6 separate regions of the Homo sapiens genome follow, and regions 2, 3, 4, 5 and 6 are each reported to be linked to region 1. The links are microRNA targets in miRTarBase. Many come from high-throughput screens and were not tested one by one. Region 1 holds a microRNA gene; each other region holds the end of a gene's coding sequence.
The links. Region 1 holds the annotated microRNA hsa-miR-548l (AAAAGUAUUUGCGGGUUUUGUC, at 1,279-1,300, opposite strand). A microRNA usually pairs through its seed, bases 2 to 8, with sites in the 3' UTR of a target mRNA and lowers its output. Matches are read on the target gene's strand: a 7mer-m8 pairs with bases 2 to 8, a 7mer-A1 pairs with bases 2 to 7 and ends in A, and an 8mer does both.

Region 2: the mRNA of MRPS5 is a reported target of hsa-miR-548l. Seed matches in the 3' UTR shown: 7mer-A1 at 1,568-1,574 and 7mer-A1 at 2,307-2,313.
Region 3: the mRNA of MIEF2 is a reported target of hsa-miR-548l. Seed matches in the 3' UTR shown: 7mer-A1 at 2,225-2,231.
Region 4: the mRNA of SPC25 is a reported target of hsa-miR-548l. Seed matches in the 3' UTR shown: 8mer at 2,619-2,626.
Region 5: the mRNA of SH3BGRL is a reported target of hsa-miR-548l. Seed matches in the 3' UTR shown: 7mer-A1 at 2,393-2,399.
Region 6: miRTarBase lists SRSF10 as a target of hsa-miR-548l. Seed matches in the 3' UTR shown: 7mer-A1 at 3,896-3,902 and 7mer-m8 at 3,998-4,004.

The regions. Positions count from the first base shown.
Region 1 is chr11:94,465,267-94,468,266 of GRCh38, forward strand. MIR548L (microRNA 548l) reads right to left here and starts at 1,314; the gene lies at 1,229-1,314. It overlaps MRE11 (MRE11 double strand break repair nuclease), which reads right to left. Exons shown (of 20, transcript NM_005591.4): 10 at 2,547-2,627.
Region 2 is chr2:95,083,598-95,088,709 of GRCh38, reverse strand. MRPS5 (mitochondrial ribosomal protein S5) reads left to right here. Exons shown (of 12, transcript NM_031902.5): 12 at 1,129-3,341. The coding sequence ends at 1,353. Among named protein-coding and RNA genes, the nearest start is that of MRPS5, 36 kb to the left of the region's middle. RefSeq lists an enhancer at 692-1,257.
Region 3 is chr17:18,263,024-18,268,135 of GRCh38, reverse strand. MIEF2 (mitochondrial elongation factor 2) reads right to left here. Exons shown (of 4, transcript NM_139162.4): 3 at 4,888-5,050; 4 at 1,584-4,426. The coding sequence ends at 3,372. Among named protein-coding and RNA genes, the nearest start is that of MIEF2, 4.9 kb to the right of the region's middle. RefSeq lists an enhancer at 240-833.
Region 4 is chr2:168,868,726-168,871,725 of GRCh38, forward strand. It overlaps SPC25 (SPC25 component of NDC80 kinetochore complex), which reads right to left. Exons shown (of 7, transcript NM_020675.4): 7 at 2,166-2,830. The coding sequence ends at 2,706. Among named protein-coding and RNA genes, the nearest start is that of SPC25, 20 kb to the right of the region's middle.
Region 5 is chrX:81,295,686-81,300,797 of GRCh38, reverse strand. It overlaps SH3BGRL (SH3 domain binding glutamate rich protein like), which reads right to left. Exons shown (of 4, transcript NM_003022.3): 4 at 2,251-3,603. The coding sequence ends at 3,571. Among named protein-coding and RNA genes, the nearest start is that of SH3BGRL, 96 kb to the right of the region's middle.
Region 6 is chr1:23,967,390-23,972,501 of GRCh38, reverse strand. SRSF10 (serine and arginine rich splicing factor 10) reads left to right here. Exons shown (of 6, transcript NM_054016.4): 4 at 490-652; 5 at 876-929; 6 at 1,063-5,112. The coding sequence ends at 1,360. Among named protein-coding and RNA genes, the nearest start is that of PNRC2, 10 kb to the right of the region's middle.

The DNA of each region.
Region 1 (3,000 bases):
CTGGTTAGTTTTAATGCTGTGAGGCAGACACAGATGAGAAAATTGGGATCTTTTGCCATAATGAAGAGAACTATGTGATTCCCTTAAAGTAATTATTTTTGTATTACCCAGACCATCTCTCTCTCTCTCTTTTTTTTTTTTTTTTTTTTGAGATGGCGTCTCACTGTCACCCAGGCTGGAATGCAGAGGCACAATCTCAGCTCACTGCAACCTCTGCCTCCCGGGTTCAAGCGATTCTCACGCTTCAGCCTCCCAAGTAGTTGGGATTACAGGCATGCACCACCATACCTGGCTAATTTTTTTATTTTTAGTAGAGACAGGGTTTTGCCATGTTGCCCAGGCTGGTCTCGAACTCCTGACGTCAGATGATTCAGCCACTTCGGCCTCCCAAAGTGCTGGGATTACAGGCGTGAGCCACCATGCCCAGCCTTACCCAGATCATCTCTACAGCTACCATGTTATAAAAGACAAAATACTAAATGCTAAAGCTATTAGGTCTCTCCTTCAAACTTCTCATTTATAAATGTTTGGTCATAACAAATTTTATTGGATGTCCTCAATGTTCTAAGTATGCTGTTCAGGGCCAGGGATACAACCATAAATAAATACAATCTTGGCTGTCAAGAAATTCACAAACTGACTGGGAAGAAAAACATGTAAACAGATCACTGGAAGCAGACTGTGAGTGGTGCTATAAGAGGTATGTACAAAGTTGGATGAGGACACAAAGGAAGAAGCATGTTCTCTGTGGGCAGGTCAAGAAAGGCTTCTTTGAAGACAGAGGCTTTAGGTGGGTGCTGAAGAAGGTATAGAGAAAGGAGGAGAGAAGTATGTCCCACGCAACAGGATCAACATGGACAAAGGTTCCAGTGAAATAAACTCCACTGCACCCAGGGGACGGCAGCTTTTTTGGTTTAGACCACATCATGTAGACCCCTGAATGCTAACCTAAAAAAGTTTAGACTTTTTCCTGTTAGTGCTGGGGAATAATTAAGTTATTTTTAGCAGAAAAGACATGCAAAACTGTGTTTTACAAAGATCATTTTGGCATTAGTGTGGAGAGAGAAGGAAACTGGAGGCAGAGTCCTGGTAGGAGGCTGCAGCAATAGGCCAGGAAGTATTAATAAGGGCTTCACTATGCCAGCGACAGTGGGATAAAGAAACGGGAACAGATTACCTACTGTGCAACAGACACTATTTAATCCATTTAGATCTCATAAATCTACGAAGCATTTGGTTGGTGCACAAGTAACTGCAGTTTTTGCCATTACTTTCTACGACAAAACCCGCAAATACTTTTGCACCAACCTAATACAAACCAAGGGATAAGGGATGCGGTTGCTCAAGGTCATACAACTAGTGGTTGGGCCAGAATGAAGCTCAGGAAGTCTGGCTCTACACTGTACTCTTTACCTCCACAGTCTACATCCCAGTACTTCTCAAATTTTCATGAACATATACATTTCTTGGAGATTTTTGTTAAAATACAGTGGGTTCTGATGCAGGGTCTGAGGCTCTGCATTTTTAACAATTTCCCAGGCAACAACAACACTGCTGGTTTAAAGACTACACTCCTCAGTACCAGGCCTCAGGGGACTCCTGGAGATACAGAACAAGAAGGAGGTCTACGTAAAGATTTTGAAGTCATCACTCTATTGGTGGTCATTAAAGCTGTATGCCTACACTGAAAAGAGGGCTAACTATGAGACGGGACGGATACAAATAACTCAGAGAATGCCCAAGAGTAATTCAGCAAGATGAGACACGATCTATTGGATTGAACAATTAAAGGTCATCTTTTCCACTGGTTATGGTGAAGTCAGAGCCTTGGTTATAGTGAACTGAAGAAGAGAAAGTTAAGAGAGATATAGGTTATATACTTTTAGGGGCTTTTAAAGAGAGTAAGCAACATGGGGTAGGAGTTTGGAAAAGGGAAAAGCATAGTGGTAAAGAAGAAGTCTGTTGTTGTTTCTTTGTTTATAACACGATAGAAAGGATAAGCAGATTTATAGGCACAGGAAACAATCCTAATAATAACCAAAACAAATAAACCGTACATAGATTAGAAGGATGTGTTACGGGGAAAAAAATAAGAAGAAAAGAGGAAGCAGAAGAAGGTAAGTGAAATCAGGGCACTGGAGAGAAGGTAGGGGCTGCAATCTTGATGATAGGGCTGCAGTGAGGTGACACGGGAGCAGACTAAAGGGAGATAAGAGCACATCCCACATGCCCAAGAAACTGCGAGAAGGCCAAGATGCCTGGAATGAAGTGAGTAGAGGAGGTAGTTAAAGATGAAGCCAGAGAGCTCAGCCAATCTATTAAATATAACAACAAATTATTTAGAAAATGAGAAAAATAAGTTACCAAACCTATCACTTAAACTGTGATTAACTCAAATCCTTATATCTTTGTTTTTGCCTCCGATGGTGATTGCTCTTCTTATTACTATGAGCACTCTCCTCACTACTTTTCAAAGAAACCATGTAAACTGTACATTACTATGCTTTGAAAATTAATAATATTCAATCTATATAAATAGGACTTACTCGCAGTCGTACAAGAGGCTTCTCTGGCTGGTGAGAATTACCCAGACGTTCCCGTTCAGCATTTTCAAGCATTTCTTCAATCTCAAAATTTTTAAAAAGATTAAAAAACAACGTAGTAAACTGAGTTTAACTTGGCTGAATAGCAGCTTATTACCACAGGAATTTTCCTGAACTACATAATCATCTTTATTTCCTAGGTCATTTATGACACCTTTTCAAATATACCTTCTTGTAATGCTCCTTTAATACTATTCCTTAATGTTTTCCTTTCATGAAAGTTCTTCATAATTTTTCAATCTCTAAAATAATTCTTTTAGAATAAAACTTAAAATATTACTACTCATGTTTCAATAAGGCTTTCCTCAGCTTACCAACTTAAAACCAAGTAAGTCTAGTTTTTGCAGTCATATGATCCATGGGAGACTCACCAGAAGATTTAGGGATCAATAAGCAA
Region 2 (5,112 bases), not on the chromosome of region 1:
TCTCCTAAAATGCCATCAGCTATAAAAGGTTGCATTATTTAATATGTCACTCAAAAAGGAAAAGATGCCACCACTTTAGGTGATATGCCTTTGATTGAAAGATACACCAATATAAATTATTTTGTTTATGAAATGGCTCATCTGTTTTCTAATTTCACACATACTGCAGGGCATTAGATATATAATTAGAATAGTGCAAGGCAGCCATAAGGCCTGGGATCACGGGATTGACATAGCAGGTATGTCATTGTACCATGAATAACGTCTACTGAACTAATCTGCCTGCTTCCAGATCTCTGTGGCTTCCCTCTGCAGTGAATCCCCATGGCCCTGTTACCCAGCTCATGACCAGTCTTGCTTCTTAGTACACCCCCAGTTATTTTGAACCAAATCTCAGACATTTTATTTCAACCCTAAATATTTTAGTATGTATCTTCGAAAAGATGAGGATTTTAAAAAATACCCTGTAATACTATTATCATACCTAAAAAGTTAACAGTAACTTGTATCATCAAATATCCAATCAATGTTCATACAAATGAGCAAATTCCATTTGTTAGATTAAAAAAAATTTTTTTTTTTTTTACACAATGTGTTTGAATCAGGTTGCAGAACAGGTTAATGTATGTTTTTGCTATGCCTTTTAAATAGGTTCCCCTCCTCTTCCCCCACCCCCGCCCCGCTTATGATTTTTTGTTGAGGAAACCAGGTTGTTTGTTTTGTAGTGCTTCCTGGCCTGTTGCTGACTAAAATACCTGTAGGGTCCTTAGTGTCTTATCTCCCCTATATTTACTGTAAATTGGTAGTTAGATCTAGGGGGTTGGTGAGATTCAAGTTCAGTGTTTGGCACAGCATGGTGCATAATCAGGAGGGTTTAGAAGGCAAGAGACCAGAGGCCAAGGCCCTTCCTCTATCCAAGTTTGGGGTGGGCAGATGCAGCAGATGAGGCTGAAATGACTCCACCCATGACAGGTTATTAGAGTTTAGCCACAAAACACATTAACCCAAATCCACTGAAATGGCCTTTGAATACCCCCAGGCTGTACTGTTGTGGCCTGTGGAAGTTCCTGCTCTTTATGTTGCAAATGTACTTCAGACCTAACCTGTTCTGAATTTGGTCTTGCTTAGGAAACCCATCAACAGCTGGCTGATAAGAAGGGCCTCCATGTTGTGGAAATCCGGGAGGAATGTGGCCCTCTGCCCATTGTGGTTGCGTCCCCCCGGGGGCCCTTGAGGAAGGATCCAGAGCCAGAAGATGAGGTTCCAGACGTCAAACTGGACTGGGAAGATGTGAAGACTGCACAGGGAATGAAGCGCTCTGTGTGGTCTAATTTGAAGAGAGCCGCCACGTAACCTCTCTGGCCTTGTGCAGCCAGTTCCTGTGCTGCCCTGCACCTAGGAGAGACTCAGCCCCTCACAGCTTGGGATGTTACCTTGCCTTTTGTTTGTTTTGAGGGAAGTTTAATCTTTAAACTCTTTGGAAATAAATAATTATAGCTTTCATTTGTTGAGCACATGTTATATGCCAATGTGATAGAACCTTTACATACATATCTCAGTTCAAGACTACTTTAAATATTCATCCAAAGTAACAAAAGTAAATGAATTAGGGAGACGGGGTTAATAATTTGACCCAATCAGTAATAATGTACACAATGATAATTGCTGTAGTAATTATAGCTAATATATATGAACTCATTCATCCAAAGTGAATGTGATTAACTTCATTTTACAGAGCAGTTAAGTAACTTGACTACCGTGAGGAACTTCCAAACCGTTTTCCACAGTGGAAATGGAAGTTGTAGGCTACTATTGGGAATGTTAAATGGTATATTAATTGTATACCATTGCAATTTTGACTTGTATTTCCCTGATGGCTGATGATGTTGAACATCTTTTCATGTGCTGATTGGCCATTTGTATATGTTTTTTGGAGAAATGTCTATTCAGAGCCTTTGCCCATTTAAAAAGTTATTTTTTATTATTATTGAGTTCCTTATAGTTTCTAGATATAAGCCCCCCTATCATACATGCTTTACAGAAGTTTTTACCCATTCTGTGGAATATATATATTTTTATTTCTTTGCATACTCTTTCTGCCCCACCCACATCCTCTTTCTGGGACACTGATGACCAAAATGTTGAATCTTTTACTATTGTCCCGTGAGTCCCTGAGGCGCTGTTTATTTTTTTTCCAGTCTGTTTTCTCTGTGTTGCTCAGTTTAGGTAATTTCTATTGTTTTATCTTCAGAATAACTGGTTATTTACTCTTTCCTTTCCATTCTGCTCTTGAACCATCCATGCAGTACTTTAACTTTGACTGTCATTGTATATTTCAGTTAAAATTTCCATTTGGTTTATTTTTTATGTCTTCTCTTTATTTGCTGAGGCTATTTGCTGAGACTTTTTTTTTCTTTAAATGGCTTCAAGAGTGTTTATAATTGCTCACTGAAGCATTTTTATGGTGGCTGCTTTAAAATCTTTGTCATCAGGTAGGTGTGGTGGCTCACGCCTATAACCCCAGCACTTTGTGAAGGTGAGGCAGGAGGATTGCTTCAGCCCAGGAGTTTGAGATCAGCCTAGGCAACAAAGTGAGACCTCATCTCTACAAAAAGTAAAAGTAAATTTAAAAGTTAGACACACATGGTGGTGTATGCCTGTAGTCCCAGCTACATAGGAGGCTGAAGTGGGAGGATCATTTGATTGCAGGAGGTTGAGGCTGCAGTGAGCCTTGTTCATGCCACTCCAGCCTGGGTGGCAGAGTGAGACCTTGTCTCCAAAAAAAAAAAAAAAATTGTCATAAAGTTTCAACATCTGTGTCATCTTAGTGTTGACATCCCTTGAGGTTTTTTCTCATTCAAGTTTACAATGTCCTAGTTCTTGTTATGATGAGTGACTTTGGCTGTATCCTGGTCATCTTCACTGTTATGAAGCTCTGGGAGTTATTTAAATCTCTCAGCATGCTTCCTCTGACGGTGCTGGTATGGGATGGGGCACTGCCTCGTTACTGCCTGGTGAGGATGGAGATCCAGGTTTCCTCCTGTCGCTGTCCTCGGGACCTCTGCTGAGGCCTTTCTGCTGGAAGTAGGAGGAGCACCCTAATGGCACCGTGGGATAGGGAGCAGGCCATGTTAGGCTGGATGGTGAAAGTTTTCAGCCTGTGACGTTGTCTGGTGTGGGTGGGTCCCCTTTTTTTGTGTGTGGTATTTTGCTAGAGTAAGGTAGTTATTTCCTAAAACTTATCTGTCCTGTTAGTTTTCCTTCTTAAGTACCTAACAAATATAAAGACAATGAACTTTAAGCAATAAAAGACAATGATCCTTTGGAGAGGGGAAACAAAATTATCTGTACTTACTATCTGCGGAGAGTCCGTGGTTCTAGGAAGGGTTACCCCATCAGGACCTGGCGGTCTCCTGGAGTTGAGGTGCAGTTGGGCAGTCGAAATGACTAGAGTTCACAGGGGAGAATGCCTTGGAGGAGAGAGTTGCACAGCAGGAGAACTAAGATCTGCAGAGAGTTTCCATCAGATATTTAGTTACACACTAATAGTGCATGCCGGTGAGGAAACTCACCCAAAAGAATTAGAGGGAACAGTGTTTGGAGTGGAAAATAGTGCCTGTTATCAACAGTCACAGTGGAAAACCTTGTAATCTAGGTGGCATTGGAAGAGAACTAAGATGCCCTAGTAGTAGAAAAATTAACTCTACATAAAAACTACCCCTGGTCCCAACTCAGAAAGCTTAAAAACAAGACCAAACTGGAACACAACTGTTTCAAAGTAACTTAATTGTGTTCCAGAACAAAGCTCAAGAATATAGGAATACAAAAAATATACCCAATAAAGTAAAATATACAATACTTGGCATCTAATAAATCACTAGGCAGCCAGGCGCGGTGGCTCACGCCTGTAATCCCAGCACTTTGGGAGGCCCGAGGCAGGCGGATCACCTGAGGTCAGGAGTTTGAGACCAGCTTGACCCACATGGAGAAACCCCATCTCTACTAAAAATACAAAAAAATTAGCCAGGCGTGGTGACACATGCCTGTAATCCCAGCTACTTGGGAGGCTGAGGCAGGAGAATCGCTTGAACCAGGGAGGTGGAGGTTGTGGTGAGCCAAGAACATGCCATTGCACTCCAGCCTGGGCAACAAGAGCGAAACTCCATCTCAAAAAAAACAAAAACAAAAACAAAAATACTAGGCATGCAAAGAAGCATGAACATAAGCTCATAATGAAGTGAAAAATTAGTCCATCAAAACTGACCCAGGAATGGCACAATGACAATCAGTAGACAAGGACATTAAAGCAGGTATTATGACTGTATTCCATATGTTCAGAAAGCTAGAGAGAAAAACATGGAAGATACAAAACACCAAGTTGAACCTCTAGAGATGAAAACTGCAATATCTGATGAAAAACGCTGAATGGGATTAACAGCAGATTGGACATCTCAGAAAAAGATATGAAAGAATTGGAAGACAGCAACTTAAACAGGAAAAAGACTGAAGAAGGTAGGAGAAATTGGGCATTAGAGAACTATGGGACAACTTTGGGAGCCAAATACGTGTATAATTGGAGTCCGTGGAGAAGGGAGGTATAAAAAACAATTTGAAGAAATGGCCGGGCGCAGTGGCTCACGCCTGTAATCCCAGCACTTTGGGAGGCTGAGGCGGGTGGATCACGAGGTCAGCAGTTCGAGACCAGCCTGGCCAACATGGTGAAACCCTGTCTCTACTAAAAATACAAAAATTAGCCAGGCATGGTGGCAGGCGCCTGTAACCCCAGCTACTCCAGAGGCTGAGGCAGGAGAATCACTTGAACCCAGGAGGCGGAAGTTGCACTGAGCCGAGACCGCGCCATTGTACTCCAGCCTGGGTGACAGAGCAAGTCTCAAAAAAAAGTTTTTTTGAAGAAATAATAGCTGAATTGATGGCAACTACTGAGACCCAAGAAATATAATAACTATCAATCAAATTTCAACTAGCAATAAAGAGGAAGTTTTAGAAGTGAGGAAGAGAGAGAAGATTAGGTACAGAGGAACAAAGGTAAAGATGACAGCAGCTTTCTTGTAGGAAACAAGCCAGAAGCAGGAGGAGCCTGGTAGGTGTTCA
Region 3 (5,112 bases), not on the chromosome of region 1:
AGGGGCTGGAGTGGCATCTGGGAGCACCTTGCTGTGCTGGGGCTTGGATGTGGCTGGAGGGTGGGGCACAGCTAGGCCCACCAGTCCTCGTTCCCAGGCATTATGTTAAGCACTGCCCACCCCAGTTAATCGTCACAAGCACCTGGGGTTGGGTATTACATGACCCTCCCCAGTTAAGAGATGAGAAGACTGAGGCACAGGCTCTGCCCCAGACTGTTCCCTTGCTGCCCCAACACCGCCAAGGAAACTGCTCAAAGCTCTCCAGCATCAAGGCATCAAGTGATTGGAATGGACCTCAGCCAAGTGATTGGAATGGACCTCAGCCAAGTGTCTCCCACCTTGGACCCTTATAATATCCTCTACAAGGAGCCCTCGTGCCCGCCTCTTGCCCTACACCCAACACCTAGAGGCCTACACCACTATTCCATTTGCTTGGCACAGTCCTGCTTCCCTTGGGTCCTGCAGTCACAGCTGGAAGGGGTAGGGGAGTCCCCTCAGGACGTAAGTCGGGGAAGGACCAGCAGGGTGCGAGTGGCACAGCTAGGCTGGAAGCAGCCCTGCACGCAGACCAGAGCCCTCCCCAGCCCACATGTGTCATCTGGTGATAGGAAGTGAGCCCTGGCTTTGGCTCTTGCGGGTGAGAGGGTTAAGATGCCCTGGCCTCTCACCTGCACAAGGCGGGGCAAGTTTCCTCCCCACTTGTGCAGCCACAAAGAGGTGCAAGGGAGGTAGAGAACACACATTTCTGGCCGGGTGCGGTGGCCCATGCCTGTAATCCCAGCACTTTGGGAGGCCAAGGCAGGCAGATCACAAGGTCAAGAGATCAAGACCATCCTGGCCAACATGGTGAAAATCCATCTCTACTAAAAATACAAAAATTAGCCGAGCGTGGTAGCGCGCACTTGTAGTCCCAGCTACTCGGGAGGCTGAGGCAGAAGAATTGCTTTAACCCGGGAGGCAGAGGTTGCAGTGAGCCGAGATCGCACCACTGCACTCCAGCCTGGGCGACAGAGTGATACTCACTCTCAAAAGAAAAAAAACACAGGTTTCTAAAAAATGATGAGCATGGCTGAAGGGCTGTCAACAGCCCACTAATTACAGAAAGTATGGTGCAGGGCTCAGCAGTTCAGCCTTGCGGGAAGAAACATCCCAAACTGGCTGGTTCCCATTACTAAAGCAACACCAAGCTTTTCATCTTTTCCTTCCACTTACCTTACTTGTCACGGACAGAAAGTCTGTGTCCCCTTCAACTTGTATGCTGAAATCCTAACCCCCAAGGCACTGCTAACAGGAGATGGGGTCTTTGGGAAGTGATTCGATCATGAATGTGGGCCCCCACCCCATGGGTGGGCTTAGTTTCCTTATAAGAGACCCTAGGAGAGCATTTCCCCCCTTCCTCCACATGAGGACAGCTAGATGGGGACACCTATGAACCAGGATGTGGGCTCTCAACCAAACATGGAATCTGTGACTCACTCTTGGATTTCTAGCCTCCAAAATGGTAAGACATAAATTTCTGATGTTTATAAGCCACCTAGTCTATGGCATTTTGTTATCACAGCCCAAACAGACTGAGATGCTAATTTATTATTACTATTATTATTTTATTTTATTTTATTTTGAGACAGAGTTTCACTCTTGTTGCCTAGGCTGGAGTGCACTGGCACGATCTCAGCTCACCACAACCTCCGCCTCCCGGGTTCAAGCAATTCTCCTGCCTCAGCCTCCCAAGTAGCTGGGATTACAGGCATGTGCCACCATGCCCAGCTAATTTTTTTGAATTTTTACCAGAGATGGAGTTTCTCCACGTTGGTCAGCCTGGTCTTGAATTCCCAACCTCAGGTGATCTACCGGCCTCGGCTTCCCAAAGTGCTGGGATTATAGGCGTGAGCCACAGCGCGGGGCCAAGATGCTTATTTATTTATTTTTTTGAGACAGAGTCTTGCTCTGTCGCCAGTCTGGAGTGCAGTGGTGCAATTTCAGCTCATTGCAACCTCTACCTCCCGGGTTCAAGCAATTCTCCTGCCTCGGCCTCCCGAGTAGCTGGGACTATAGGTGCGTGCCACCACGCCCAGCTAATTTTTGTCTTTTTAGTAGAGTTGGGGTTTCATCATGTTGGTCAGGATGGTCTCGATCTCTTGACCTCGTGATCCGCCCGCCTCGGCCTCCCGATGTGCTGGGATTACAGATGCGAGCCACCACACCCGGCCAAGATGCTACTTTTTAAAGTAAACTCTACCACCTCCAATTGACCTCAAGCACTCTTGCCAAAGTGCCAGGACAAGCCACAGGACTTACAGAAAACCCTCAACAGCTGCGTATGAAAGCACCAAGACTCCCTTATCCAGCCTGAGTTATATATACATTAGAATTTTTTCCTTTTATTCTTGTTCACATCTTCGAAGCTGAGCTTCGTTTCAAAAGGAAGGATACCAGAGGCAGGAGGAGGGTCACTTGGGAGGGGAGGTGGAATCTCCCTCCTCTAGCCCCCTTGCTACCTCTTAACAGGCTTCAAAGTCAGAATACAGCCATCAGCTGAGAGCAGTTCATTTTGGCACACTGGGAGGCCGGCTGTGCACACCGGACCTCTCTAGTGGGGGATCAGGTCCTCTGCTCTCCAGTGGGGCCTGGAACAGCTCCAGTGAGATGCCCCAGCTGTGGGCTGGGGGTGCAGCACAGAGCCTCAGCTCCCCCAGGACCCTCAGCTGCCTGAAGAAAACACTCACCTGGCTGGAGGGAAAAAGGGCCTTGCCCTGAGGTATCAGGTGGGTGGCAAGTCATACTGAGCTCCCGCTCAGCAAGAAAACTAAACGCACAGAAGACAGCAGGAAAATGCCATCCTTTAACAGCCAAAAATCTGTCCTTCAGGGGCACCAGGTGACTCCAGCCCCTGGGGGACAGAACAAACACACCATACCTACCATCAGGCACCAGACGCCTCAAAACGCCTGGAGCTAGGGCCGGAAAAGGCGTTAAGTCACCTTCTCTCAGCAGAAATGTGAAGCTGGCCTTCAGCTTCTGCCCAGGATGGCAGAAACCACATTCTGTTGGTGGATTGGTTGCTGGTGATGGACAGAGCCAAAGGTCCTGGGGTTGGCCCCAAGAGCTGAAACGGTGCTTGCAGGAATGGCTGGCACTCCAAGCTGCCTGAGGCAGCCCAGCTGCACTCAGGTGACAGTGACCCAAGCTCTCTGGGCTCAGGGTTTATGGCCACCATAGCCCAAGCACATCCTGATGCCCTGGGTTTAAGTAATGTACCCTCCTTTGTTCTGGCAAAAAGCTAGAGAAAAACCACTATTCAAATCCCTGGAAGGGAGGTGGGTGCAGCTCCCCAGCATTAGAAAACATGGCAACCACCCGTTTCCACCCACCTAGAGCAGCCCCTCGGGCTCCTGTAGGCCACTGTATAGCGCATAGCCAATGTCGTCAATCTCCTCCTCACGCAAGCTGCTGAAGAGGTTCACGCTGGGGTTGAAGTGGCAGGGCAGGCTGGCCTGCTCCAGGCTGCCGATGAGCAGCTCCAGGGCTTGCAGGAAGCGCTCACCCAAGGCCTCCTCCGTCCAATCCACGTTGTCCTCCCCCAGACGCAGGACCACCTGGGTCAGGTGACCCCGGCCTAGCTGCCCCAGAGCCGAGCAACCACGGCAGACAGCACACAGCAGCAGCAGCAGCCGCCGGCGAGTCCCAGCGTCATGGTCGTCCAGGGCTCGCAGCCTAGCAGCCTCCACTGGATACAGGTCCTGCAGCCAGAGGTTCCCCGCCAGCCCCTCCAGGGGCCAGGCCAAGAGGAGGCGGTCGTCAGCATCGACCCCAGGGACTGCCACAAGCACAGCCACAGTGAGCTCCAGGCGTTCGTGCTGCACCTCGAGCAGCAGCTCCTCCGAGGCCATGCTGGGCCGGATCAGGCACCCGAGAAGGCTGCCAATGGCCGGCCAGTTGACAGAAGCAGCCAGCGCCTTGCGGAGTAGCTCCAGCAGGACGCGGGAGGAGAGGTAGCCCCCGACCAGGAAGCGGTCCCAGGGGCTGCTCCCACGGGGGCAGAACTCAAGCTGCGTCCTGCGCACGGCCCAGCAGCGAGGGTCCCTCGCCACAGTGTCCACGCCCGGCACCAGGCTCCACAGGCCCGGCTCCAGCACCAGTGGCACCAGGAGACGCACATGGTCCGCAGCCCCCGCCTGCAGCCCGTCGTAGAGCGGCCCCCCAGGCACGAATGCCCCAAAGGGCAGTTCCGGGAACTTGCTCCGAAAGTAGGCCTGCAGCTCCAGGGCGATGTCGCCAGCCAGCTGTTTGGCCAAAGCCACCTGGGCTGCTGGGATGGTCACACGGTCCCGCTCGAAGGCCAGCAGCCTCTCCTGCAGTGTCAGACACAGCGGTGCTGGGGAGCTGAGCTGTGGTGTCACCTCAGGATCAGTTTCTGCAGGCCCTTCTGCAGAGTGAAGGGGCGGGGAACATGTCGGAACAGCCTGTGATTAGTTAAGAAAACGCCACCGAGAACTAGCTGTGTGATGTCCCAGGGCCTCACTTTTCTCACCTGCAGTGGCACCTGAGAAGGCACTCAGTTCAGATCCTCACATATAGTGAGCTCTTGGTGACGAGTTCTCATTGCCCCAGAGTCCAACACCCTGGCGACAACAGCTTCATGCAGAGTAGGTAGGTATGTCACGCCCCTCTGGACCTCAGTTTCCCCATCTAAAGCTCCCCACCATCACAACGCTACCACCTTGCTCCAGGAACAGGGCAAAGAAACACCACCCCCATTAAATATCTGAGGAGCCCACAACCGAGAGAGAAGCAGGGACTCGCGCAGGGTCACACAGTCAGTCAGGGCAAAGCCTGGGCTGCGTCTCTTGAATGTGACACCAAAAGAGGGGAAGGAGTGCCACTCACCTGGGGCAGACGACGAGGGGGCCAAGGGCAACACTGGCTGGCTAAGGGCAGCAGGTGGAGGCCGGGGCTGCAGGTGTGGTGTGGCCTTGAGCAGGCTCAGTTCCTTCCAGCTGTCTGCCTTGGTGTCATCCTCATCCCGCGGGCTAGTGGCCCTGTCAATGAACTGCAAGCACAGTCACACAGATCAGTGTATATGAAATCTGGGCAGTCATAGCAAAGCCCAGG
Region 4 (3,000 bases), not on the chromosome of region 1:
CCAAAAAAAGTCCAGGACCAGATGGATTCACAGCTGAATTCTACCAGAGGTACAAGGAGGAGCTGGTACCATTCCTTCTGAAACTATTCCAGTCAATAGAAAAAGAGGGAATCCTCCCTAACTCATTCTATGAGGCCAGCATCATCCTGATACCAAAGCCTGGCAGAGACACAACAAAAAAAGAGAATTTTAGACCAATATCCTTGATGAACATTGATGCAAAAATCCTCAATAAAATACTGGCAAACTGAATCCAGCAGCACATCAAAAAGCTTATCCACCATGATCAAGTGGGTTTCATCCCTGGGATGCAAGGCTGGTTCAACATACGAAAATCAATAAACGTAATCCAGCATATAAACAGAACCAAAGACAAAAACCACATAATTATCTCAATAGATGCGGAAAAGGCCTTTGACAAAATTCAACAACCCTTCATGCTAAAAACTCTCAATAAATTAGGTATTGATGGGATGTATCTCAAAATAATAAGAGCTATCTATGACAAACCCACAGCCAATATCATATGGAATGGACAAAAACTGGAAGCATTCCCTTTGAAAACCGGCACAAGACAGGGATGCCCTCTCCTACCACTCCTATTCAACATAGTGTTGGAAGTTCTGGCCAGGGCAATCAGGCAGAAGAAGGAAATAAAGGGCATTCAATTAGGAAAAGAGGAACTCAAATTGTCCCTGTTTGCAGATGACATGATTGTATATCTAGAAAACCCCATCGTCTCAGCCCAAAATCTCCTTAAGCTGATAAGCAACTTCAGCAAACTCTCAGGATGCAAAATCAATGTGCAAAAATCACAAGCATTTTTATACACCAATAACAGACAAACAGAGAGCCAAATCATGAGTGAACTCCCATTCACAATTGCTTCAAAGAGAATAAAATACCTAGGAATCCAACTTACAAGGGATGTGAAGGACCTCTTCAAGGAGAACTACAACCACTGCTCAGTGAAATAAAAGAGGACACAAAGAAATGGAAGAACATTCCATGCTCCTGGGTAGGAAGAATCAATATCATGAAAATGGCCATGTTGCCCAAGGTAATTTATAGATTCAATGCCATCCCCATCAAGCTACCAATGACTTTCTTCACAGAATTGGAAAAAACTACTTTAAAGTTCATATGGAACCAAAAAAGAGCCCGCATTGCCAAGTCAATCCTAAGCCAAAAGAACAAAGCCAGAGGCATCACGCTACCTGACTTCAAACTATCCTACAAGGCTACAGTAACCAAAACAGCATGGTACTGGTACCAAAACAGAGATATAGACCAATGGAACAGAACAGAGCCCTCAGAAATAATCCCACATATCTACAACCATCTGATCTTTGACAAACCTGACAAAAACAAGCAATGGGGAAAGGATTCCCTATTTAATAAATGGTGCTGGGAAAACTGGCTAGCCATATGTAGAAAGCTGAAACTGGATCCCTTCCTTACACCTTATACAAAAATTAATTCAAGATGGATTAAAGACTTACATGTTAGACCTAAAACCATAAAAACCCTAGAAGAAAACCTAGGCAATACCATTCAGGACATAGGCATGGGCAAGGATTTCATGTCTAAAACACCAAAAGCAATGTCAACAAAAGCCGAAATTGACAAATGGGATCTAATTAAACTAAAGAGCTTCTGCACAGCAAAAGAAACCACCATCAGAGTGAACAGGCAACCTACAGAATGGGAGAAAATTTTTGCAACCTACTCATCTGACAAAGGGCTAATATCCAGAATCTACAATGAACTCAAACAAATTTACAAGAAAAAAACAAACAACCCCATCAAAAAGTGGGCGAAGGATATGAACAGACACTTGTCAAAAGAAGACATTTATGCAGCCAAAATCACATGAAAAAATGCTCATCATCACTGGCCATCAGAGAAATGCAAATCAAAACCACAATGAGATACCATCTCACACCAGTTAGAATGGCAATCATTAAAAAGTCAGAAAACAACAGGTGCTGGAGAGGATGTGGAGAAATAGGAACACTTTTACACTGTTGGTGGGACTGTAAACTAGTTCAACCATTGTGGAAGTTGGTGTGGCGATTCCTCAGGGACCTAGAACTAGAAATACCATTTGACCCAGCCCTCCCATTATTGGGTATATACCCAAGGGATTATAAATCATGCTGCTATAAAGACACATGCACACGTATGTTTATTTCGGCACTATTCACAATAGCAAAGACTTGGAACCAACCCAAATGTCCAACAATGATAGACTGGATTAAGAAAATGTGGCACATATACACCATGGAATACTATGCAGCCATAAAAAAGGATGAGTTCATGTCCTTTGTAGGAACATGGATGAAGCTGGAAACCATCATTCTCAGCAAACTATCGAAAGGACAAAAAACCAAACACCACATATTCTCACTCCTAGGTGGGAATTGAACAATGAGAACACATGGACACAGGAAGGGGAACATCACACAACGGGGACTGTTGTGGGTTGGGGGAGGGGGGAGGGATAGCATTAGGAGATATACCTAATGAAATGACGAGTTAATGGGTGCAGCACACCAATATGGCACATGTATACATATGTAACAAACCTGCACATTGTGCACATGTACCCTAAAACTTAAAGTATAATAATAATAAAAACAAGAAAAAAAGAGATATGTAATAGAGAAGAAAAATAAACCGTTTTTATATACACTATTTGTATGTTAATTATAAACCGTGGCAGTAAAAGCTTTCCGAACATTGGCAAGAAAAGCTGAAAAATTGTTGGTCTTCCTTACATTCTCTTGAAATTCTGCTAGGCCCTCAAGATGAGGGGCACTATCTGACACTAGAAAAAAAAAAAAAAGAAATCAAAGACAATTAGAATGAGTTTTTTTATGGCACAGAAGTATTTCTAATCTAGATGCTCTCATCTGGTTTGAATGTCAATTCCATCTTAATGAAATTCTTTGAGCAAAAAAGGATACACTTGATTTTCCTATGCCAAATATCTTTTGG
Region 5 (5,112 bases), not on the chromosome of region 1:
CAAAAAAAAAGATGAATTTGCCAAAATTTAAAACTTACATACTTCAAAGCATACCCTCAAGAAAATAAGACGACCCATATAATGGTAAAACATTTTCAAACCACATATATAATAACAGACTTGTAATCAGAATATATAAGGAAATGTTAAAATTGAGCAATAAAAATACAAATAACCCAATTTAAAGATGGACACAGGATCTGAAAAGACATTTCTCCAAAGAAGATATATAAATGGCTATAATCACATAAAAAGATGCTCAACATATTTAGCCATCAGAGAAATGTAAATCACAACTACAATGAGGAACCACTTTATAGCCATCAGAATGGCTGTAATCAAAAGTGTAAATAACAACAAGCACTGGCCAGAAATTGGGAAAATCAGAACAATACTCATACATTGTTGGTGGGAATGTAAAATAGTGAAGCCAACTTGGAAAAGTCTCACGTTCCTCAAATTGTTAAATACAGAACAATCATGTAACTCTTCTACATATATATCCAAGACACAAAAACAGGTATTCCAACAAAAAATTTGTACACCGATGTTCATAGCAGCATTATGCGTAACAGCCAAAAAGTGGAAACCACCCAAATGTCCATCAACTGATTAATGGGCAAACATAATGTGCTTTTATCCATACAATGGAATGTTATTCAATAAAACATGTGAAGTACTAATGCATGCTACAACATGGATGAAACTCAAAAATGTGGTAACTAGAAGACACAAACCACAAAAGACCACATATTGTATGACTTTAGTTATATAAAATGTCTAGAATAGGTAAATCCACAGAGACAGAAAGTAAGTTGGTGTTTGCATAGTGCTGAGGGAGTGGGGGATGGGGAGTGACTGCTATTGGGTAGAGTTTATTTGTTGGGTGATGAAACATTCTAAACTTAAATCTTAGTGATGGTTGCATGATTCTGTGAATATAGTAAAAGTCACTGCCTTATACACTTTAAATGAGCAAAGTTTACAGTATGTGAATTGTATATCTCAGTAAAGATGTTAAAAAGACAATTGTGTGAAAATAGGAATTATGGTAACATTATAGTACTCTTTACAAAGGATTTCAAAATTTTGTTTGCTAAATAAAGGAAGGTGATAATAGATACAGGGGAAGAATGATGGGTGGAAGCAGAAGACTAGAAGGTTCAAATTAATCAAATGTGCATGTTTCTTAATCAGTTTTGTTGGAATTCTTCAAAAGAAAAGAAATATGTATTTTACATTAAAAAGATTAGACCAATGTCAACCTTTCAATATTTTTCAGCATCCACAACTGGGTAATAAAATCCATGTGAATCCTCATTTTTCCTTTTGCTGAATGAATGGAATATGTGCAATGAAATCTGACTTCACCAACATTTTCTGTATTTAAACTTTCCCAAGCAAGTAATTAACAACTTCTGTTTTAAAATTCTGTTTACCCCTACACTCAGACTCCCAAAGAAATGTTGACATTTAACAATGCAATCGACGTCCAATTTGCATTGTTTGGTGAAAATGAAAATCTTCCTGAGAGTCAAATATTCCCAAGAACAAACCAGCTCAATAACTGAACATAACAAATAAACAAGTCTGATTTACAAACAGAAACAATCTGAATGTAATATAACAAGTGGCAAAGATTATATTTTCCGGCCAAATATTTTGGAGATTTTTTTAAATAAAACTCACCTTCATATTCAGAATTTCACTTGCATTTTTGTATCTACAAAACATATTTCTCAGCTGACAAAATAAAATATTTCAGTTTAGGAAGACTCAATTCAACCTTTTACTTTAATATACTATGTTAATTTTAAGTTATATAAACATGGCAAAAAATACATCTATTTTTAAAGAATGCCCATTTTGGCAGTGTTAACTTATTTGACATTAAAATAAAAGTGAAAATGACCACATAAAATATTGCAAGTATCATCAGCAACATTTAATAAAGCTTAGGAGAAAATATTGACTAAAAAACTTTTTTTGCGTTTCCAGTGTATTACAAAGCACCCTGTTTTCTCTAGAGTTCTTTATGCCGTATTTTTGTAAACCCAATAAAATTGTTCATTTGACCTCATGTGTATTGTGAGATTAAAAGCCCTAAAAAGAAAACATAGAAAACGAAAACCTTGAATTGCATTCAAAGCTTTTTCTTTCTACTATTTTCTCTTTTTGCATTCCCAACCCTCTAAAAAAAGATATTACTCATCTAAAATTACTATTATATAAACTCCAAGAACACATAAGTTATGTTTCTAAAAGTACTGAGTTTATTTTAAAGCATAGCATCAAGTTTGAATCTCATGAAACAAAGGCATCTCTTCATTATATGTTGATTTTGGCAAAAAGTAAAGACCAGCATACAATAGATATACATGATAATGTAGTTTAAAGTAAGAGGTGTTTGCTTTTGGTAATAAGGTAGTGTGAAACTTACTATGTAAATCTATGTTGGTTATTTAGGCCATGTTTCTTGTCTTTTTAGAAGTCTTCAGGCTTAATATTTTAAAAGTTGCCCTTTTTATTTGATACTTCTACTTTTTGCTGGAATAGAGGCATAGAAAAGATTCTCACTGCTTAGACTAATACACTCATACAATACATGGCTAAACTGAAATAAAAAGGTAAGATATCTTAGGAATAGTAGCATTTACGATTGTGAGTTGTTTTAAACGGGCAAAACTACTAAGATTTGTTTTAGCAAAAACTCAAGGGAAACCAATCTTGGGAAATGATCGCCAACCTGTTTTATAAGAGTTATTTAAAAGTCTAATCTCTTTGCTAGAGAATGCCATTTTAAGCTTACTTGGCATCCCACTTTCATGATATACATATGCATATTTCACTGAGGCAAGGAACTTGGATATATCATTCCATCATAGCTGTGTAGTTAAACAAGGAACTTGTCCACTGAATGAATCTATTGCTTTTGTGCGTGTAAAAGGATATCTATTCTGATCACTGAAATGTGCAATGAAAGGCTACATTTAGAAGCTCAGAAAATCTGTGGTTCAATATGTAGAAGTTTCATCTACAAAAGAATGGGAATGTTATAATTACGATAGGAAATTACAACGTTTAACATATCATAAACATTACCTGCAAGAACTTTTTAATCGCAGTAATATAGCATCAAAAAGGTACATATTCTTGTTCATGAAAATTAATGAGGCAACTTAGGAATGAGAGACAGGTTATTTCTCTTTCTCCTTTTTAATGTAGAGCTGCAGATACACTTAAGTTGCCATAGTAATGGCAGAAGGAGGGAAGGGTGTTTTCTTTGTAAAATCATTGGTGTATACAGGATGGCTTGGCAGGTAACAACACTATTTCTACGATATCTACTTATTAATATAATTTTATGTTAATATCCCATTCTCCTCACCATAATCACCATAATGTTCAAATTTTAATTTTGTATTCATTTTGAATGTTTGCATGTGAAAACCCAACTAATCTATTATTTCAACATTAAGCCTATTTCTTTTGAAGCAAAGCTAATTCTGCTATTTTATAAAAGCAATGGAGACTCATTTTTCAGGATGCTTAAAGCACAGTGCTTAAGGTTCATGCTTGCTGCTTTGCTTGCACTTCTGCTTCCTGAAATGAAAAACAAACAAAACAGATAAGTTTAAACATCACAGAGCAGACACCCATGTGTATTTTAGTCAGACTACATTAGTTCCAACTACTAAGAATAAACAAAAGCCCCCAGAAGAGATTTCTTAAAAAGTTCTTAATAGAAAAACTATATAATACAAACAGATTTCTAGAAACAGATACACAAAAAGACTACCTAATCATTCCTAATGATTTGGAATACTTTCATGAAAGCAAGTGATATACAATTATAATTGATATTTTACTTAAAAATAGTCAGTTTCCTTTTTGTGTGATTTTTTTTCATGAAAATTGAGAATATAAAAACATGGTTACTTAAGTTTAAAATTAGTTGGGTTTTGGTTAATTAAGGTTTAAATTACTTAGAAAATGTGCTATCCATTAAAATATTGTAGTTTTCATGTTTTATGATAGAATACACACCAAAAAATCAGGTTGTCTTCCTTCTCCTCTGGATAGTGAGGTACTCACCTCTAGCATAGGAACTCTGACCTACTTGACACAAAATAAACTTCAAGGAAAGTTTGTTGAACTAAAGATGAGTGGCAAGATTGACTCCAGAAAAGGAAACATCAGACTTAAGTTGTAGAAATCAAGCGTGGTAGACAACATCATTCTAAACACCTGTCACTAAATCAATACTTGACAGTCTCAGGAGGACTGATACTGTCCAAATGAGTCCCAGTATTACATGCAAAAGAAGGGAGAAAAGCTAAAAGAGACACTAGATTTTTACCCAAAAAAGGCAAAAGTAGAGGAAAGAAGAAAATATTAAATGACACCAAAATTCATTCTTCATATCCTTTAAAAAAATAACGAAATATACTACTGACTCATTGATATGGTTTGGCTCTGTGTCCCCACCGAAATCCCATGTCAAATTGCAATTCCCAGTGTTGGAGGAGCAGCCTGCTGGGAGGATATTTGATCATGAGGGCAGTTTCTAATGGCTTAGCACCATCCTCCTACTGCTGCTTGTCTAAAAGTGTGTAGCACCTCTCCCTCTCTCTCCTGCCACCAGGCGAGGACGTGCTTCCTTCCCCTTCACCCTTTGCCATGATTGTAAGTTTCCTGAGGCCTCCTCAGCCATGGCTCCTGTACAGTCTTTGGAGGTGTGGGTCAATTAAACCTCTTTCTTCTTTATATATTGTCCAATCTCAAAAAGTTCTTTATAGCAGTGTAAGAATGAACTAATACATAAAATTGGTACCAGGGGTGGGGTATTACTATAAAGATACCTGAAAATGTGGAACCAACTTTGGAGGAAAGGTTGGTACAATTTGGAGGGCTCAGAAGAAGGCAGAAAGATGATGGAAAGTTTGGAGCTTCCTAGAGACTTGTTAAATTGTTATGACCGAAATGCTGATAGTGACATGGACAATAAGGTCCATACTGAGGTGGTCTCTGATGAAGATGAAGAACTTATTTGAAACTGGAGTAATGGTCACAACTACTGTGCTTCAGCAAAGAGACTGGTGACACTGTGCC
Region 6 (5,112 bases), not on the chromosome of region 1:
GCCACTGCATTCCAGCCTGGGTAACAGAGCAAGACCCTGGTCTCAAAAATTAAAATAATTAAAAAAAAAAGACACCAAAACACATACACACTTTTTTTTTTTGGAGACAGGGTCTCTGACCCCCAGGCTGGCGTGCGGTGGTGTGATCACAATTTACTGCAGCCACCAACTCATGAGCTCAAGTGATTTCCCCCCTTAGCCTCCTGGGTAGCTGGAATACATGTGCAAGCCACTAGGCCCAGCTAATTATTTTTTGTAGAAATGGCATATTGCTATGTTGCCCCAGGCTGGTCTCAAACTCCTGGGCTCAAGTGATCCTCCCACCTCAACCTCCCAAAGTAGTGGGATCACAGGTGTGAGCCACCACCCGGGTCATACATACTCTCTTTGGGATATAAGAGGGGATGCAGGGATTTTTTTCCCTATTTATTGAGGGCTTTAATACTGTTTTTAATATTTTTAAATATTTCTGTTCTTTGTATTTCCTAGCACCAAATCAGATGAAAGCCAAGGAAGGGAGGAATGTGTACAGTTCTTCACGCTATGATGATTATGACAGATACAGACGTTCTAGAAGCCGAAGTTATGAAAGGAGGAGATCAAGAAGTCGGTCTTTTGATTACAACTATAGAAGATCGTATAGTCCTAGAAAGTAAGTGTGCTGTGTAGCACAGTGATCTGTTTAAAAAATGTATTTGTTAGCATTTAATTTTTTTTTACTATTTTGTATACTTTTAATTATATACATTGAATGTTTCATTGAGACAAAAAATACTGTAGCATTTTATTTTAAAAGTTTTATGGTTTGCTTTTAATTAGAAACTTTGCCTCTATGAATAGATATTTGTCACTGCTTTTTCTGATATGCTTTTTAGCAGTAGACCGACTGGAAGACCACGGCGTAGCAGAAGCCATTCCGACAATGATAGGTAAATAACTTTGCTTTGAAAAAGACTCATGTATTTTTTAATTTCAGAGTGAACTTTTGCTCTAAAAATAACAAATTTGATTAATATAGAATCTAATTTTTACTCTAATTATATCTCTCCTCTGTTTTGAAAGATTCAAACACCGAAATCGATCTTTTTCAAGATCTAAATCCAATTCAAGATCACGGTCCAAGTCCCAGCCCAAGAAAGAAATGAAGGCTAAATCACGTTCTAGGTCTGCATCTCACACCAAAACTAGAGGCACCTCTAAAACAGATTCCAAAACACATTATAAGTCTGGCTCAAGATATGAAAAGGAATCAAGGAAAAAAGAACCACCTAGATCCAAATCTCAGTCAAGATCACAGTCTAGGTCTAGGTCAAAATCTAGATCAAGGTCTTGGACTAGTCCTAAGTCCAGTGGCCACTGATAGTATAAACCATGGTCATTTTTAGGCATGTATCATTCATTTACTCATAGTTTGGTTTACTTAAATTATCAGGAATACAATGTTGCAATGATGCTTAAAAAACACTTGTTAGTTTTCCCTGTACCAGGCAATGGTTATAATTAAAATGATATGCTGTTGAGAAGCCACTCTTAAGAGTCCAGTTTGTTTAATGTTATGGGCAGCTACCAATTTGTGGTGTCTCTGTATATTTTTGTAAAGATTCTCATTTTTTATGCTTGAAGTATTTGGTGAAAAGATGTTGGTTGACCATAATTTGCAACATTGTCTCATTAAAAATAAACTTTCATATTCATATTTGGTAGAACTGTTAACCTAGAAATGTAGCTTGCTAATAAGATAGAATGATACAAAAGTGAAGTAGTAGCCACAGTACAACACTGACTGCTCAGACACATTTAGGTTCAGGGTGGACCTTTATGTCTTGTCAAGATGTCTAGGCCCGGCTGGGCGTGGTGGCTCACACCTGTAATCCCAGCACTTTGGGAGGCCGAGGCGGGCGGATCACGAGGTCAGGAGTTCGAGACCAGCCTGACCAACACGGTGAAACCCCGTCTCTACTAAAAATACAAAAATTATCCGGGCATGGTGGCACATGCCTGTAATCTCAGCTACTCAGGAGGCTGAGGCAAGAGAATCGCTTGAACCTGGGAGGTAGAAGTTGCAGTGAGCCAAAATCACGCCACTGCACTCCAGCCTGGGCAACAGAGTGAGACTCCGTCTCAAAAAAAAAAAAAAACCGGATGTCTAGGCCAATGATAATTATTTTTGATGCAGTGTGGATTAGTTCTTTTGTTAACCCCACTGTCTTGGGGAATGATGCCAGCTGGGAAATTGAGTTTTTGACTGAAACATGGAGCCTTCACTGCTTTTTTTCTGGTTCCTATGAAGATTTGGAACATAGAAAACACAAAAACTCACCTTAAAATTTGAGCAGGTCGTTGATGGCAAAAATAATTTTAAGGAAAAAGGAATATTCTTATGTAGTTATTCTAAAGTTTAAGGAGCGTTGTTGACCATAATATTGCTTAGTTTTCTTACTGCTGTTAAGTAAGTAAATTGTTTCAAAGTAGGTTTTGTGTGTGTGTGCCTAGTGTAAAAGAACTGAAATTTTGATGCTTACAGCACTTGGCTCGTGCATTTGTATCAAAATTTGCCTGCCTCTTTATGAGGGAGGCCTGCTTTTCACACCTCAGTTTATTTAATACGAGGCAAGTTGTAAGACAACACTCATTCTAGGTGATTCTGTGGTGCCATGAAATTTAAGGTAATTTGGGGAAAAGGATTAGTCAGTTTTAAGCAAGAGTCACATCTTTTGAGCTTTCGATTATCAGTGTAGTACCTGACTAAAAATGAAGTAATACCCTTAAACCATTTATAATTTCTAGTATTTCTCTGAAAGATCGTTTTGGGGACAAAAGTGACTTGACATGTCCAATTTCATTTCAGAATAAAAAGCTAGCATCTTTAAAAATCTCAGATTGCTTGCTTACAGATACAAGTACGAATTATGGACAAACGATTCCTTTTAGAGGATTACTTTTTTCAATTTCGGTTTTAGTAATCTAGGCTTTGCCTGTAAAGAATACAACGATGGATTTTAAATACTGTTTGTGGAATGTGTTTAAAGGATTGATTCTAGAACCTTTGTATATTTGATAGTATTTCTAACTTTCATTTCTTTACTGTTTGCAGTTAATGTTCATGTTCTGCTATGCAATCGTTTATATGCACGTTTCTTTAATTTTTTTAGATTTTCCTGGATGTATAGTTTAAACAACAAAAAGTCTATTTAAAACTGTAGCAGTAGTTTACAGTTCTAGCAAAGAGGAAAGTTGTGGGGTTAAACTTTGTATTTTCTTTCTTATAGAGGCTTCTAAAAAGGTATTTTTATATGTTCTTTTTAACAAATATTGTGTACAACCTTTAAAACATCAATGTTTGGATCAAAACAAGACCCAGCTTATTTTCTGCTTGCTGTAAATTAAGCAAACATGCTATAATAAAAACAAAATGAAGGAAATAATGATTAACTGGAATTATTACAGTATTGAATATGATTCTAAAATAACAATGGAAACAGTCCTTTATAGATTTAGGAATATTTTAAATCATTGTTGCACTAGGCACAACTAACTTTTACTTTGGAAATGATAGAACTTGCCAGAAAGGTACATCTTTTACACAGTAGTTAAAAATTCATTGTGTAATATCAAAGTTGTTTCATGATTGCTCATTAAGCCTCTTGGGTTAACTAACTTAAGAGGTTATTTGGTAGTGTTAAGATGAAATTTGGATCAGCTAATTCCAAGTTTATATTTTCATTATTGGATGGATCAGTAATTCTGCTCTCCCTCTTATAAACAAGACGCATTAGGGCTTAACGTTTATGACATGATTTTAAATCATTTTAAATTGAATGTTGATGAGCAACTAATATTAAGTGATAACCTCTTTGGGGAAGTAGGTTAGGTATTTTGTGGTTTGAATTCTATCTACTTTATGACAATTATAGCTAATTTATTAAGTATTCATGATGTGCCAGACACTTGAAAAGGCTATGTGTTAACTCACTCTTCACAAAACCTTATGAGAAAGATACTTTTATTTTCCCCATATCACAGATAAGGAAACTGAGGCACAAAGAAAAGACTGTAAGGCAGAGCCAGGATTTAAGCCCAGGCCTGGTCCCTTAGTTTTGGGGGGGTTTTGTTTGTTTTACAGACTATAATTTGAGAGAAGTAGATTGAGGAGATAGCTCATTGAAATTGTTCATTTTCTGTATAGAACTAGAAGGCCTAATTTCATTTTTATTTTTACTTGTGTCAACTTATTTTTAGACTTGGACTATTGAGAATCTTATATGTTGTTCCTAAAGCGACACACCTAACAGCTTCAAAAGGACTATATTACAGTTGAACCCATGGTAGTTTGGATCCTACTGATACTTGATGAGGATCTTTACGTAGTGTTTTATGTTAGTTTTGGGTGATGTAGTTGAGTCCCCCACTTACTGAGTTTACCTACTGTGTATGACTGGGCTCAATGATAAATAGAATGGTTATATCAACACTCAAATGAGGGCTGACACACTTCACCTCTCCTTTTACTTAAGATCTCTCTGCATTTTTTTTTTTTTTTTGAAGCCAAGTAAGCAAGAAGAAAAATGAGAGATAATGCTTCAGTGAGAGAGGAAAGGTGCTACATAGAGTATGAGCTGTTAAGTTACATCCCAGGGGAAAGACCTGGGAACTATTGTATTATTCTCTTGAAAATTTGGCCCAGTAAGCTGCTACATCCAGTTCAACTAACAAAATCCTGTATACCACAGAGAAGAATAAAGGAAACCAAACTGACAAACATCCTTCTTTTATTTAAGACCAAACTGCAGCTGGAATACCCAGTACAGTTCTGCTTACTACACTTCAAGAAAGATCTGAAAGCGGAAAAAGAACCAAAGAAGGGCAGTTCAAGCGACCAAAGGGTGGGTGGAAGGTGCTGCAGTATGAATACTGTACGAATATTTTGACTCTGGTCTGAAAAGATAAAAGAATGTTATCGAAAACTACATGGAATAATTGAAGTCCCTTCAAGTTTGAAAGTAAGCATTTTAGGACAAATAAAAGGAAATTCAACTTTGTACTTGTGGAAACTAATCCCTAAATATGAATAGGTTTATATTGATTCATGGGTAACAGGTCCATAATAAATTA